Linked DNA regions of Homo sapiens: regions 2 and 3 are each linked to region 1. Evidence: fine-mapped expression QTL. A gene starts in region 1. Each other region holds a variant in brackets. All regions are shown on one strand. Distances are between the middles of the regions.

Region 1 (4,241 bases):
TATATATGAATATTTATTCTTTTAAAAAACAAATGAGGACAGAGTCTACATATTGTTTCATGCCTTGCATTTTTCCACTCAACAACTACAACTTGGAGACAGTTTCATGTATGACCATAGAGTCTTTTGTCTTTCTTTTTAATGATTGCATAATAGTCTATAGTATGGTTGTAGCACAAATTATTTAGCCTAAACTTCCAGTTTGGTTCTTCTCTCATGCCTTTTTTTTTTTGTCAGTGGAAACTCTCTTCTACTAGTCACTCTGGTACTAAACCTTGGAGTAATATCTAACCTTTTTGGTATCTAGTAAATCCTGTCAATTCTCTCTTTTTGATGTTTTTCCTACTTGTTCATTCTTTTTCATTCTCATTGCTGCTTCCCTGGTTTAGGCCTTCTCATCTCCTACAGTGTTGCCTTATCTCCAAATTCTCTGTCTCTGCACATCTTGCACACTTGCCCTTCACCAAATTTCCTAACGCCCACATTTTGATTGTGTCACTCCTCTTAAAAACCTGCACCTCTAATCCCAGCACTTTGGGAGGCCGAGGCGGGCGGATCATGAGGTCAGGAGATCGAGACCATTCTGGCTAACACAGTGAAACCCCGTCTCTACTAAAAATACGAAACATTAGCTGGGCGTGGTAGTCCCAGGGCGTGGGCCCGTAGTCCCAGCTACTTGGGAGGCTGAAGTAGGAGAATGGCGTGAACCCGGGAGGTGGAGCTCACGGTGAACTGAGATCCCGCCACTGCACTCCAGCCTGGGCGACAGAGCGAGACTCAGTCTAAAAAAAAAAAAAAAAAAAATTAGCCGGGCGTGGCGGCGGGCGCCTGTAGTCTCAGCTACTCAGGAGGCTGAGGCAGGAGACTGGCATGCACCCGGGAGGCGGAGCTTGCAGTGAGCCGAGATCGCCCCACTGCACTCCAGCCTGGGCGACAGAGCAAGACACTGTCTCAAAAACAAACAAACAAACAAACCCCCAAAAAACCTTCAGTGCCTTCCCATTCATTGTGTTACGTAAAAACTCAAGCAATGATTAATAAATCCGATTTTTAAATTGTAACTGATGAGTTCATGAAATGCAGATGCCTGGATCAGAATCTCCAGATGTATGACTGTCAGTCAGTCTGTATTAAAAAAAAATGTTTCCAGGTGCTTCTGTTGCAGTTGGTTGTTGGATCAGTGGAACCATTAGAACAAAGTACACATTTATCAGCCCAGTATTTAAGGCTCCTCGTAATTTCTCTCCAGCGAACCTTTCCAGACCCATCCCTTACTACTACGTCTTTACACGTCAGTGCAAATGAAATTCTTTTTGGCTGTCTGGATTCTCCTCACACCTTCCAGTTATGCCTTTTAACCTCCGAAACCCAGTGTCTTTATGAAGCCTTGGCAACCAGAAGAGATCTCTGAACTCCATTATCGGAACTGGCTTACAGCTCACAGTTTTGAATTCTCCAGCTCCCCGTGTCTCCCCCACTAGACTGTAAGGCCTCTGTCAGACATTAAGTTAGACTTTATTATTCGCGCCGACGGAGCCTTGGCACTTTGTGGCAAAGGTGGTAAACAAGAATTTGTAGGTTTAGTGCCACTGCCTGACTTGATCATCACTGTTTACGCACTGTCGTTAACTGTTTTTGCTTACAGTGGGCTTCAACTAGTATTTGCGGATTCCATGTATGAATGAATGGAATCCAACCTAGCATTTCCCAGAGAACTACAAATCCCAGCGGACATTACGCAGAACGCCGACGGACGCGGTGACGCAAGGGGGCGTGTCGAGCCTGAGGGAGGGGTCGGCCTGCGGGTAGCCAGAGGCTGGGGCGGCTGTGGAGCCTGTGGTGGGAGCGGCATTGTGGGGCAGGGAAAAGGTGAGCCGAGCCGACGGAGGGGACGCGCTGCGGGGCGCCCCCAGTCTATGGAGCGGGGTAAGATGGCGGAGGCGGAGAGCCTGGAGACAGCGGCAGAGCACGAGCGGATCCTGCGAGAGATCGAGAGCACTGACACGGCCTGCATCGGGCCCACGCTCAGGTACCCCGGGTGCCGGGACCACAGAGGGGCGGGAACGGGCGGGACGGGGCAGGCTCCTCTGGGTCGGGCCTCCGGCCGGCTGTCCCCAGGTCCGGCGCCGGCCCCTCCCTTCGGAGAGACCCTGCATACCGGGCGAGGCGGGTCTCCCTTCGCAGCCCCGACGCGGGGTCCCTTCCCGGCGCCCTACAGCCCAGTGACTCAGGACCCTCCCGCTGCCTCCCTCGGGGCAGGAGCAGCCTTCGTTCTCCCTCCGAGGCTGGTCCGGCGCTGGGGAACGAGAGGGCGCCCGACAGATGGTGGTGGCTCCCGGCAGATCTTCCCCCTGGGGACATCACCCTTCTCCCTCCGTCTCTAACTACGTCCTGCCCTAGACAGGAGTCCTGCTCTTCAGACAACACAGAATTTCACTCCATGGTCTAGTGCTCGAAATCAAAGTCTTGCCTCAGAATCACAGCCACTTCTCAGAAACGAGTCCCTGGAAATCCTAGGCCTGGATGGAAGTTTCCCCAACCCGCGCCCCTCTCCTGGGAGCCGCTGCTCCTTTATCCCTGCCTCCCTGTTACGAGGACGACCCTCGCCCACGGTGCAGCCTCCTCATCGCTGGGGAAAACTGACCCTGCTGCCGCCCCCCAGTTATCATTTTTTTTTGCACGCACATCTCCATTTTATTTGGAGATGTCAAAAGAAATCCCTACTTACCTCAACTTATTTAACAAATTTAGGTAGCACTTGTTACATAAAGTCCAAGACGTTGTATAAAGTGATTTACAAATGCAACTTATTTAAGCTACAAAACAACCGTATTAGGTAGGTTCTATTACTCTCCTTTTACAGACAGGGCACAGATAGGTTAAGTGACTTGCCCAAGGTCACAGAGAAAATAAAGTGGGGGACTCAGATTCCTACTCGGATAGCCTGGACCCAGACACTTAACCACTGTTTTGCCTCAGCTGGGGATTATCGGCTACCTGTACTTACTGTTGGTAACTACTCACTAAGCCCAGTTTTGAACTACTTTCCCCCTTCCCCTCATGTTACTGGTGTCCTAGAACCAACTCATCCTTATCCCTTACTGTTATGCATTCTGATCATGCAGCCAATACATAGATAACTATCCTACCCTCCTTGCACAGTCTTGGGTCACTGCCCCTCCCATCAGAAAAGTTATTACTCACTGCTTGCGTTTTCTTGGGGTAAGTTGACTCAGGAAAGACTAATTGGAGGGCAGGCTGGAAATTACTCCTCCTCTCCACTTGCACAGCTTCCTTCTCCAGGACACATTGTTAGCACATTTCTGCCAGTACCACCCCTGGTCATAACTATCCTTAGTAGTTTGCCTTTTGTCTCTTTATTTATTAAAAGCAATGGCAAAAACCGCAATTACTTTTGCACCAACCTAATATTCATTTATTGAGAGAGGGTCCCCTTTTGTCTCCTAGGCTGCAGTGCAGTGATGTGATCGTAGCTCACTGCAGCCTTGACTTCCTGAGTTAAGATCCTCCCACCTAAGCCTCCTGAGTAGCTGGGACTACAGCTGTGCACCACCACCACACCTGGCTAAGTTTTAAACTTTTTGTAGAGATGGGATTTTGCCATGTTGCCCAGGCTGGTCTCAAACTTTTGGGGTCAAATGATCCTCCCACCCCAGCCTCCCAAAGTGTTGGGATTACAGGCATGAGCCACCGTGCCTGGCCCCTTTGTCCCTTAAAGTGACTTTTAGCTCCCTTTTTTGGACCAGTTCTTCCACACAGTTGCCTGTCTCTCCACCAACCCCCATTGCCTTATGATCAGGACCATTGTGCTTTTCTCAATTCCCATTTTCTTCAGCTCTTAAGGGTCAATGGTCCTACACACATTTTCCTGTATACTTCAAATCATCTCTAGATTACTTATAATACCAAATATAATGTAAATACCATGTAAATATATGTTATACTGTATTGTTTAGGTAATAATGACAAGACAAATGTCTGTAGCATGTTTAGTGCGGATGCAACCATCCTTCTTTTTTTTTTTTGGGACAGGGTCTCACTCTGTTGCTCAGGCTAGAGTGCAGTGGCACAATCGTCACTGCTCACTGCAGCCTCGACTTCCTGGTGATTCTCCCACCTCAGCCTCCTGAGTAGTTGGGACTACAGGCGTTCGCCACCATACCTGGCTAATTTCTTATATTTCATATAGAGATGGGGTTTCACCATGTTGCCCAAGCTGG
Region 2 (4,241 bases), 650 kb after region 1:
TTCTGTCACAGTTGCTTAGTCAGACTTGGGGGTTCTGTGACCATCTCAGCCTAGTCTTGACTTTCTTGTCCATGTTTCCCAGTTAGGGCTGTCTGTCTGAAAGAACCACTGGCCAGAATTACCCATGGTTTGTGTTCTAGGAATATGCCATCTATGAAGCTTTAGCATGACCCAAAGGTCAAAGGTCCAGGGGTACAGACAGCCATTGAGAACTCAAAGGCTTCTCATGTAAAAAGCTCTGGTTTATGGAGTGAGAGGATGGCCCAGCCATTTGGCCCATGCTTTCCTCAGCACTCTACTCTCTTAGCCACCACACCACCTATGTGCCTTTACCCTGAGACGAAAGGAAAAAGGTCAGTCAAGCCCTTAGTTTTGTTGGGGATAGGATAGAGTAGCCAGCTAGAGTGAGGTTTAGAAATATACAGTGGCCTTCAGTTATTCATGTTCTGTTGGAATTGCTAGTTAAGAACACTTTTCCTGCTTTACCTTTCAAATATTATCTCAAAGGTCCTATCAGGATTTAGTAGGTTCATGAGGTAATGAGTGGATCCTAGACATTCTATAAGGGCTTATTGACCAGCAGAGCTGTTCCCTGTCCCAGACACCTACAGCAGGTACATACCTGCTGAGAGAAGAGAATGAATTAGGTGGAGCAGGTATAAGGGGTAGGGAGATTGACCCCTCCAAAACTGGGTCTTGACCAGTTTCCAAAGGTGACTGAAGTTGGGAGGGCTATAGGTGCCAGAATGCCAGCTTCCTGATGAGTAGGTGAGTGTGGGCCTGACAGTGGAGATATTCTGGACTCTCTCATTACTCTGGGTAGTGGTTAAGATGCATTGCCATCCTGCTTCCTGCAGGTTCTCCTTCCACCATTGTTTCCTCAAACATGTTGCCCTCTTTCTTTCCTTCTCTGTTTAGGATGAAGGATACTAGCCGCAAGAACAACATGTTTGCACAGTTTCGGAAAAATGAGCGAGACAAGCAGAAACTCATTGACACCGTGGCCAAGCAGCTCCGAGGACTCATCAGCAGCCACCACTCATGAAGGGTGACCCCGGACCCACAGAGGCGACCTGCTGCAGCCTCTGTGTCAGTCTGGGGTCCAGCCCCAGCTGACCCTGCATTTGTGCATTCTTCTTCAAAGAGAGCATATGTATTTTTTTATTAACCCCTGTGCAGTATTCACATAACATTTCCCTATAGTAAAAGAGGCACAAGAATAAGCAAGTACATGAGATGTTGCTAGGCTGGGACTCAGGGGAAGTTATTACTACACTATCTGTGTTATCTTAGAGATGGTGGTATCATCAATTCCACAGTGATGAACCACCTTTCATCCATGGCTCTAAAGCTTAGGTCTGGGGCTTAGGAACCATAAAAAGTGGGTATCTGGCGCTGGGAGGTAGAGTGAGTAAGCAAAAGGATACTAAAATATGTCCTGTTCACTCTTGGATGCCCATTCACCACATAGATGAGGCTGATTCTTCTCAATACAAGGAAAGGGCATGGCAAACATTACTATTTAGTACACTAAGGGCAGCTCTGGAGGGTCATCTCCTCAGTCTGCTGACTTTCACTGGCTTGTGAACAAGCATGGCATATGGCAAGATGACAGCTTCATTCCAATCCCCCAAGAATGGCGGTTTCTTTAGCCTGATCTAACCCCAGGCTTTTATTGCAATTTTTTCTAGGGCAGGATACAGCTAAGTAGACAGCAGTAATAATTGGATCCCATGTTTAACTGCATATTGCCCCAGCTCTAGGAGTGTTGAGTCTCAACTCGAAGAGTTTTTCTGGATCTTGAAAGCCAGTTTTCATGGAATCAGAGACCCAATCCCTTCCCTGTTCATCTCATTTCCTTCACTTACAGTCAGAGCACTTGGTTCAGGACATAAATCAACAGTTACTTCCATAGGCCTTCACAGGGCGTTTCAGACTTAGCCTCCTCCAGTAATGCCATTGAAATAGTTCAGATTTCGGAAGCCTAAAAATGGCCTTTACCTTACCCTTAGGTGTAACCTGAGGATTAGTTGGGATTGTTCCTTTATGTTTTAAAACCAGCTTTTTGGTTATCATCTTTAAGGAAATGTCACCAGCTCTGCACTGTGGGGGCAGCCATGCCTGGACTGGATGCCTCTAGGGATGGAGACATTGTTACCATAAAGTCGACAGAGCCAACCATGGCTTGTGGCTTGTTGCCTCTGGCCCAACTGTCCTTCACTAAATAATATCCTAGATATTATTTTGTTGCTCAAGCCCAAGGTTCCCACCCTCTTTTGAGATCCCCAAAGCCATCTTTGGCCTTGTCTAAGAAAGATTGCCTATAATCCTGTCCTCCAAACTCTAAAGCCTGGAGCAGCTTAGCGTGGAGGCTGCACTCATTGACCCAGATGGACTCCTGAGACTTAACGCAAGGGCTTTGCTATGAGGTCAGTCGGGGGAAACTGTACTTTAAGACACTTCAGAAAGATGCTACTGGCTAGTAGCAGAAAGATGGCTA[G/C]TGGCAAGAGTATAATTGTGCATCACCAAACAATGACAAATAAGCCACACAGGCATTTCCAGCTTGGATTGATGGGAGGAGAGACTCATCAAACAGAATTCTTCACTACCTTTGTCAGCTACTGAGTTGCTTCTGGGGAGGGAAGTACTTCCTTGCCCCTCCCCAACCCCCCTACCTCACCATATCCTATCATATCTTGATAGTCATGGGGAAGAGGATGTGCACACAGACATACAAATTTCCTCAAAGCTGGAGAGACCAGGCTACATGTGAGCTCATAGATGCTGCTGAGGCTCATCCTGAGGGCTGGATGGTTGGCCAGGGTTTCAGAATGAGGGTAAGGGATGAGCACTGCCACCCAGAACTTGATAAGCCAAGAGAAGGCAGGAGCCAAAATGGCATCGCCAAGCTCTCATCTTTGTTGAAACAAGTGAGAAACGATTATATTAATCTGAAGTTCTATTGCTTGAGAAGAGTTCAAAACACTTCTCTTTGCTAGTACCCAGTTTGCAGCAAGATCTCTTCAGCTTTAAGTGCTGAGAGACTTTGAAGTGGAAATGGAGAGATGTGTAAGCATGGCACAGTGTTTGTCTTTTTAGAGGATCATCATTGCTGGTCTGGTCTCAAACCTCTGCCTTGGAAGAACTGTGCTATACAGGAAAAAGTGAACAAGGTGGAGGAATAGGGGTTATTCTGCACAGAAGTCCCATGAAAGGAAAAGCTTATTCAAGCTCAAGACATAAAGATGGACCCTTTGATATATCTTCTCTCCATTCTTAGTCTGCCTTCACCTTATCTAACAAAAAACAACATGCAGCTACTGAGTTGTATGTAGAGACATACTCTTGGTGGGCCAGGGAAGGTAAAAACAGGGACCAGCAATGTCAAGTTTTTGAACTAGAAAAGTGGGATGTTTTTAGTTTTGTCTATAACCTGTAGCTGGGCCAACCCTTGAGAGGACTTGTGCAAAGCATGTGTGCCCAGACCCATCAGACTCCTCAGATATGGCCTCAAATACCTAGAGATGTAGAAGTACCGTGGAGGGCCTCAATAAGAGGGCAAGCACACAGATGGCTAGAAGCCTGTATGGCTTCTGGTCAGGATGAACCCTTGGCCAAGTTCTTGAGGAAACCAGGTCTATATTCCTGAAGGGACAGTTCAGTTTGGGACTCTATTAGGTTTCAGTAGTAATATAGGCTGCTTGCATCATTTTAACATTCATAGGGAAAATCTCTTTGAGCAGGCTATAAATGAAGCTGTTGCAGGTAGGGAAGAACAGGACCTGAAAATGGGAACCAGGAAGTGAGATCCTGTTGGCAAAGGGAATGTAGAGCTTCCAGGGTGCATTGCCCACTGTTCTCATTGCATACCAGTCCTCCAAGTCAGTCTAGCCTTACTGTACACTTGACAAGTGCTTACTCAGCAAGTCCCAGACCCACGGCCTTTTATCTCCCAAGACTGGCTTTGGCCATGACCTTCCTCATCAGGCCTCTGAGCACACTCTCTAGGAACTGCTGCAGAAATTCCCCTACCTTAGCCTCCCTTCTCCCAGGACTCCTCTCTTGACTGCAATTGCCTCTTCTTCTTCTTCTTCTTCTTCCTTTTTGTTTTTTTTTTTTTTGCCTGCATTCACAATTACTTTTCACAAAGGTGTTGGAAATGGCATTTTTATTTTACACAGATAGTTGCACATATATAGAGAAAATTAGGAAAGTCCATTTTTAACTCTAAAGGGAACTTT
Region 3 (4,241 bases), 71 kb after region 1:
TGCTGGTTTTCTTTCTGTCCTTGATTGTTTTCTATAGAATTGAATTAAAATATTTGAACATATTTATCTTTATATTGAATGTGTATATAGTTTTACATCTGTTTCTTCACCTCACCTTCCTTCTTACTCTCCTCTTCCTCTTCCTTTTACTCATCTTCCTTTTCCTTTCCCTCATCCTTTTTCCTTCATTTTATTATACTTTATATAACTGTGGCAACCTGGGAAAGGTAAATGCTTCTATGTACTGGCAATGTGAAAAAGGTTGCTTCATGTGCAAAATGATGATAATAACTATTCTGCTAGGATTATATTTGGGGAATAAGTGAGTTAGTGAATATAAAATGTTTAACAGGATTTGGCACGTATTTTAAAAATGCTTACTTTTACTACTATTTTATAATTTTGGGCTGAATTTAACCTTTAATGGTATGGATGATAGTGCAGTAATAAAATAGCATAGATTAAATTACTGGGTGGTCAAATAATTGGTCTCTGTTTTTGTTTGCTTTTCATATGAGTTGGTACTATAAGTAACTTTTTTCTGCTAATGTTCTTGAGCCATCACTCCAAACTCAGAAATATATATCACAACTTTTTTCAGAACCATGATTAGGTTATAAATCGACTTAGCTGTCCCACATGTTGTGTGGCTGGATTTCCCTACAGACATCTATGATAATCATTTAATAGAATGCTTAATCCAGGCCAAAATAAAGTAATGAAAAATTTTGAAATACCAGGACATTTAGCATTGTCCTTTGTTCAGCTCCCTATGACTCTGCATTACAGTGTCTAGGTTTGGCATGGGACTGATGTTTATCATTATGATACAGAGTTCTTGGCTACTTTTATGTTTTACCAAATATAAATCTTTAACAGACTCCACCTGACAACCCCCGCCCCAACACAGTTAAAAACGTCCCCCTTAAAAAAAGATTTTGCCAACAAAATGTTTCTCTCCTTTGAGAGTTAACTTTGTAATTTGGAGCATATAACCATGATGTTTGAGAGCTGTCTGTTTCCATTGTTGCAGCCTGATTGTCCATGGTTTAATCATCAGTAGTTAAGAAGTAAAGCCAAAAATGGCTCCAGGCTGCTCAGTACCATAAAAAATTTCCACCTGGAAGCAATTTTTTCTAAAAGCCCGTAGGGACTGCTGTCACCCTCCCCCTTCTGTTGGCAACAAGGGCCAGAAACATCAGTTCTCTTCAGAGCCAGGTCTTGTTGCAGTTTAATCATCTTCCTTCTCCTAGCTTCCAGAGGAGGTTAGAGGAGAGCTAGGGAAATAACAAATTATTGCCAGACACTACTCTCCTCCTACAATAGATTTCCTTTAGCCATCTAAATTTCTCCTTTCTTCCTCTGTTTCTTTCTTTTTCTGTTTAACATTTTAGCTGAAGTGCAAATTATTTGCACTGCTAGAACTTGAATTAACTTTTTGGTAAAAATATTTATTATTGAACTCTAGTGCTTCTCTTTGGGGTAAGATGAAATGTTGAAACATTTTTGGGCACTGCTTTGGCTCTTTGTCACTTTATAATGCTTTCTCTGTGGGATACAGCCATTGTTCCAGGTGTAAACTCTCAAGGAACTCATGGTCTTATAGGGGAGATAGACATGTAAATAAATCATTACTGTATAGAGTGTTCACCGTAGTACCCTTTCAAAAATATGAACAAATAAACATTTCAAAGCAAAAGGACATGAACTGTGCTTTCCACCAGTAAATATCATTAGTAGTGGTGCCCATTCATTTCTAGGCCCATTATCCTAATGTAACTTCTGGATAATACTAGGCATTTGTTCAAGAACTTTGAGGCAAAACAAGATGACAGTACTCCTGGTGAAATTCACCTCAAACCACATATGGCTTCATAGGTTCAAGGCCAGTTCAAATTTATACAGTGTCAAAGTGAGAGCCAGTTGGTGAATGATTATACCATGACTGTTAAGGAGTAATTCTTATCCTATATCCTTATCATACACTCCTTATCAAGGATAGGGCTAGGTGCTTCAATAGATTTTGTTTCATTAAAAAAAATAGATTTTTAAATATATTCCTTATCGAACTAGACTATGAGCAGGCACTGTGGCTCACACTTGTAATCTCACCAGTTTGGGGGGCCAAGGTGGGAGGATCGCTTGAGCCCAGAAGTTTGAGACCAGCCTGGGCAACATAGTGAGACCCCATCTCTGCAAAAAAAAATTTTAAAAAATTAGCTGCTTGTGTTGGTGCATGCCTGTAATCCCAGCTACTTAGGAGGCGGAGGCTAGAGGGTCCCTTAAGCCCAGAAGCTAGAGGCTGTAAGTGAGCCATGATTGTGCCACTGTGCTCCAGCCTGGGCAACAGAGTGAGATACTGTCTCTAAAAAAAAAAAAAGAAAAAAAAAAGCTATTAAAAAAATGAAATACATAGAACTAGACTAATACATGCTGCAAGAGACTGTTATTGTAGATTAAATTTGGCTGGGTGTGGTGGCTCACACCCTATAACGCCAGCACTTTGGGAGGCTGAGGTGGTAGGATTGCTCGAGGCTAGGAGTTTGACAGTACCCTGGGCAATGTAGCAAGACCTCATCT[C/T]TACCAAAAAGAAAAAAAAAGAAATTGGTGTCATTTGGGAAAAGATGCCTCATATCAGCAAGTAGGAGAAAAATGGTATTGAATTTGAATCTTTAAAGAATGGACTCATGATCTTGTTTGGTATAAATTCCTCCAGAGTATGCAAGCTTAAGCTCTTCGTGGCTGCTTTGGTTTTATGAACCAAAGCAGTTTCTTGTGTTCTACCTTGTTGGTAAGAAGAGCAGCTTCTGAGCTGGGCATGGTGACTCTCACCTGTAATCCCAGTATTTTGGGAGGCCGAGGTGGGAGGATTGCTTGAGCCCAGGAGTTTGAGACCATCCCAGGCAACATAGTGAGACCTTGTCTCTACAAAAAAATGAGCTAGGCATGGTGGTGCCTGCCTGTAGTCCCAGCTACTCAGGAGGCTGAGGCAGGAGGATCGATTGAGCCTGGGACACAGAGTGAGACCCTGTCTCAAAACAAAAACAAAAACAAATCCTAAAAACTAAAAAGGTAAGGAGCTTCTGTATCAGGTTATAGTAGTTGTATTAAGGAGAGACGTTTTAGGAAAGAGTTGAGTTTTGAGCTGAACCTTGAAAGATGAGTAGGAATTTGCCAGAGAAGTGATGGTAAGGACATTGCAGGCAGAGGGAATACATGCTACACTCAAGGAACTTCAAGTAGAGTTGTAGAGTGAATGTGGGGAGTATTCAGAGATAATGCTGGACATGGAGGGCATCTTACATACTATGCTAGGGACTTTGGACTTGATCCTGAAACAAGATCCTGAAGTTGTGTGTATGTGTGTGTATTTCTGTCTTTCAATTTCCAAGTACAAGGTCTCATTTAAAAAATTACTGTCAAAGAAGTATTGAAGATGGATTGTTACGAATATAAGGGGAAAGTGATAAAAACAGTGTTCAGAAGAGAGATGATAAGGACATGAGTCAAGGCAGTAGCTGGGGAGAATAGGGAGGGGAAAGAGCATAGAAGAGCCATTATTTAATTAGAAGCGGTAGGTCTTGGTGACTAGTTATGAGGAGGTGTGAGGTGAAGTGAGGTGTCAAGGTTAATGTACATATTTCTAGTTTAGGTAACTCAGTGGCTGGTGTTATCTTCAATTGAGATGGTGAATACTAGGAGTGAAATGTGGGTTTGGGTAGAAAGTTAAATTCTTTTTTTTTTTTTTTAATTCAAGAGACATGCCCCTTGCCATATTATCTGGGCTGGGTTTGAACTCCTGGGTTCAAGAGATCCTCCCATTTCAGCCTCCTGAGTGGCTGGGACTATAGGTACATGCCACCATGCCCAGCCGAGTAGTTTTTGACATGCACGGTTTGCGATGTCTTTGAGTCAGGTTTATAGGACTTGACAGAGATATATCCTGGTATTATTGGTTTGGTAACCAGACTTGTTTAATACTAACAACTGAGGTATTGATGAGATCTCTGAGGGTATATATATATGTGAAGAGTGAGAAGAAGTGGTCAAGGAGGTATTCAGGGGTAGAGGGAAGAAGAAGAATTATTGAAGGAGACTGAGAATGGGGAGAACCAAGAAGGAGTGTAATAGAAGCCGTGGGAATAGAGATTTTAAAAAGAGGGGATAGTTCATGGTGGCACATACAAAAGTGGAGTCAAGTAAATGATGAAATTAAAAGTGAATATTTGATTTGACAATTA

Direction of the effects. Positions count from the first base shown, and alleles are read on the strand shown. Sizes are in standard deviations (SD) of each study's normalised expression.
As copies of C replace G in region 2, the expression in cerebellar hemisphere of the gene that starts at base 1,794 in region 1 goes down (small effect, 0.37 SD a copy in GTEx).
For the expression in left ventricle of the gene that starts at base 1,794 in region 1, C is the low allele of the variant in region 3 and T is the other (moderate effect, 0.72 SD a copy in GTEx).

What was found. PIP is the estimated chance that this variant, and not a neighbour inherited with it, causes the effect.
Region 2: its variant is the best candidate, but not a certain one, in a credible set for the expression of EXOC6B in cerebellar hemisphere (GTEx, PIP 0.69).
Region 3: its variant is the best candidate, but not a certain one, in a credible set for the expression of EXOC6B in left ventricle (GTEx, PIP 0.74).

Annotation. Positions count from the first base shown.
Region 1 is chr2:72,823,586-72,827,826 of GRCh38, reverse strand. EXOC6B (exocyst complex component 6B) reads left to right here and starts at 1,794. Exons shown (of 22, transcript NM_015189.3): 1 at 1,794-2,029. The coding sequence starts at 1,917. RefSeq lists a silencer at 2,033-2,202 and enhancers at 2,393-2,442, 2,289-2,799.
Region 2 is chr2:72,176,139-72,180,379 of GRCh38, reverse strand. EXOC6B (exocyst complex component 6B) reads left to right here. Exons shown (of 22, transcript NM_015189.3): 22 at 919-4,241. The coding sequence ends at 1,045. Among named protein-coding and RNA genes, the nearest start is that of CYP26B1, 30 kb to the right of the region's middle. The variant G/C (reference allele first, on the strand shown) is at 2,501.
Region 3 is chr2:72,752,756-72,756,996 of GRCh38, reverse strand. The region is part of intron 1 of EXOC6B (exocyst complex component 6B); the gene reads left to right. Among named protein-coding and RNA genes, the nearest start is that of EXOC6B, 71 kb to the left of the region's middle. The variant C/T (reference allele first, on the strand shown) is at 2,581.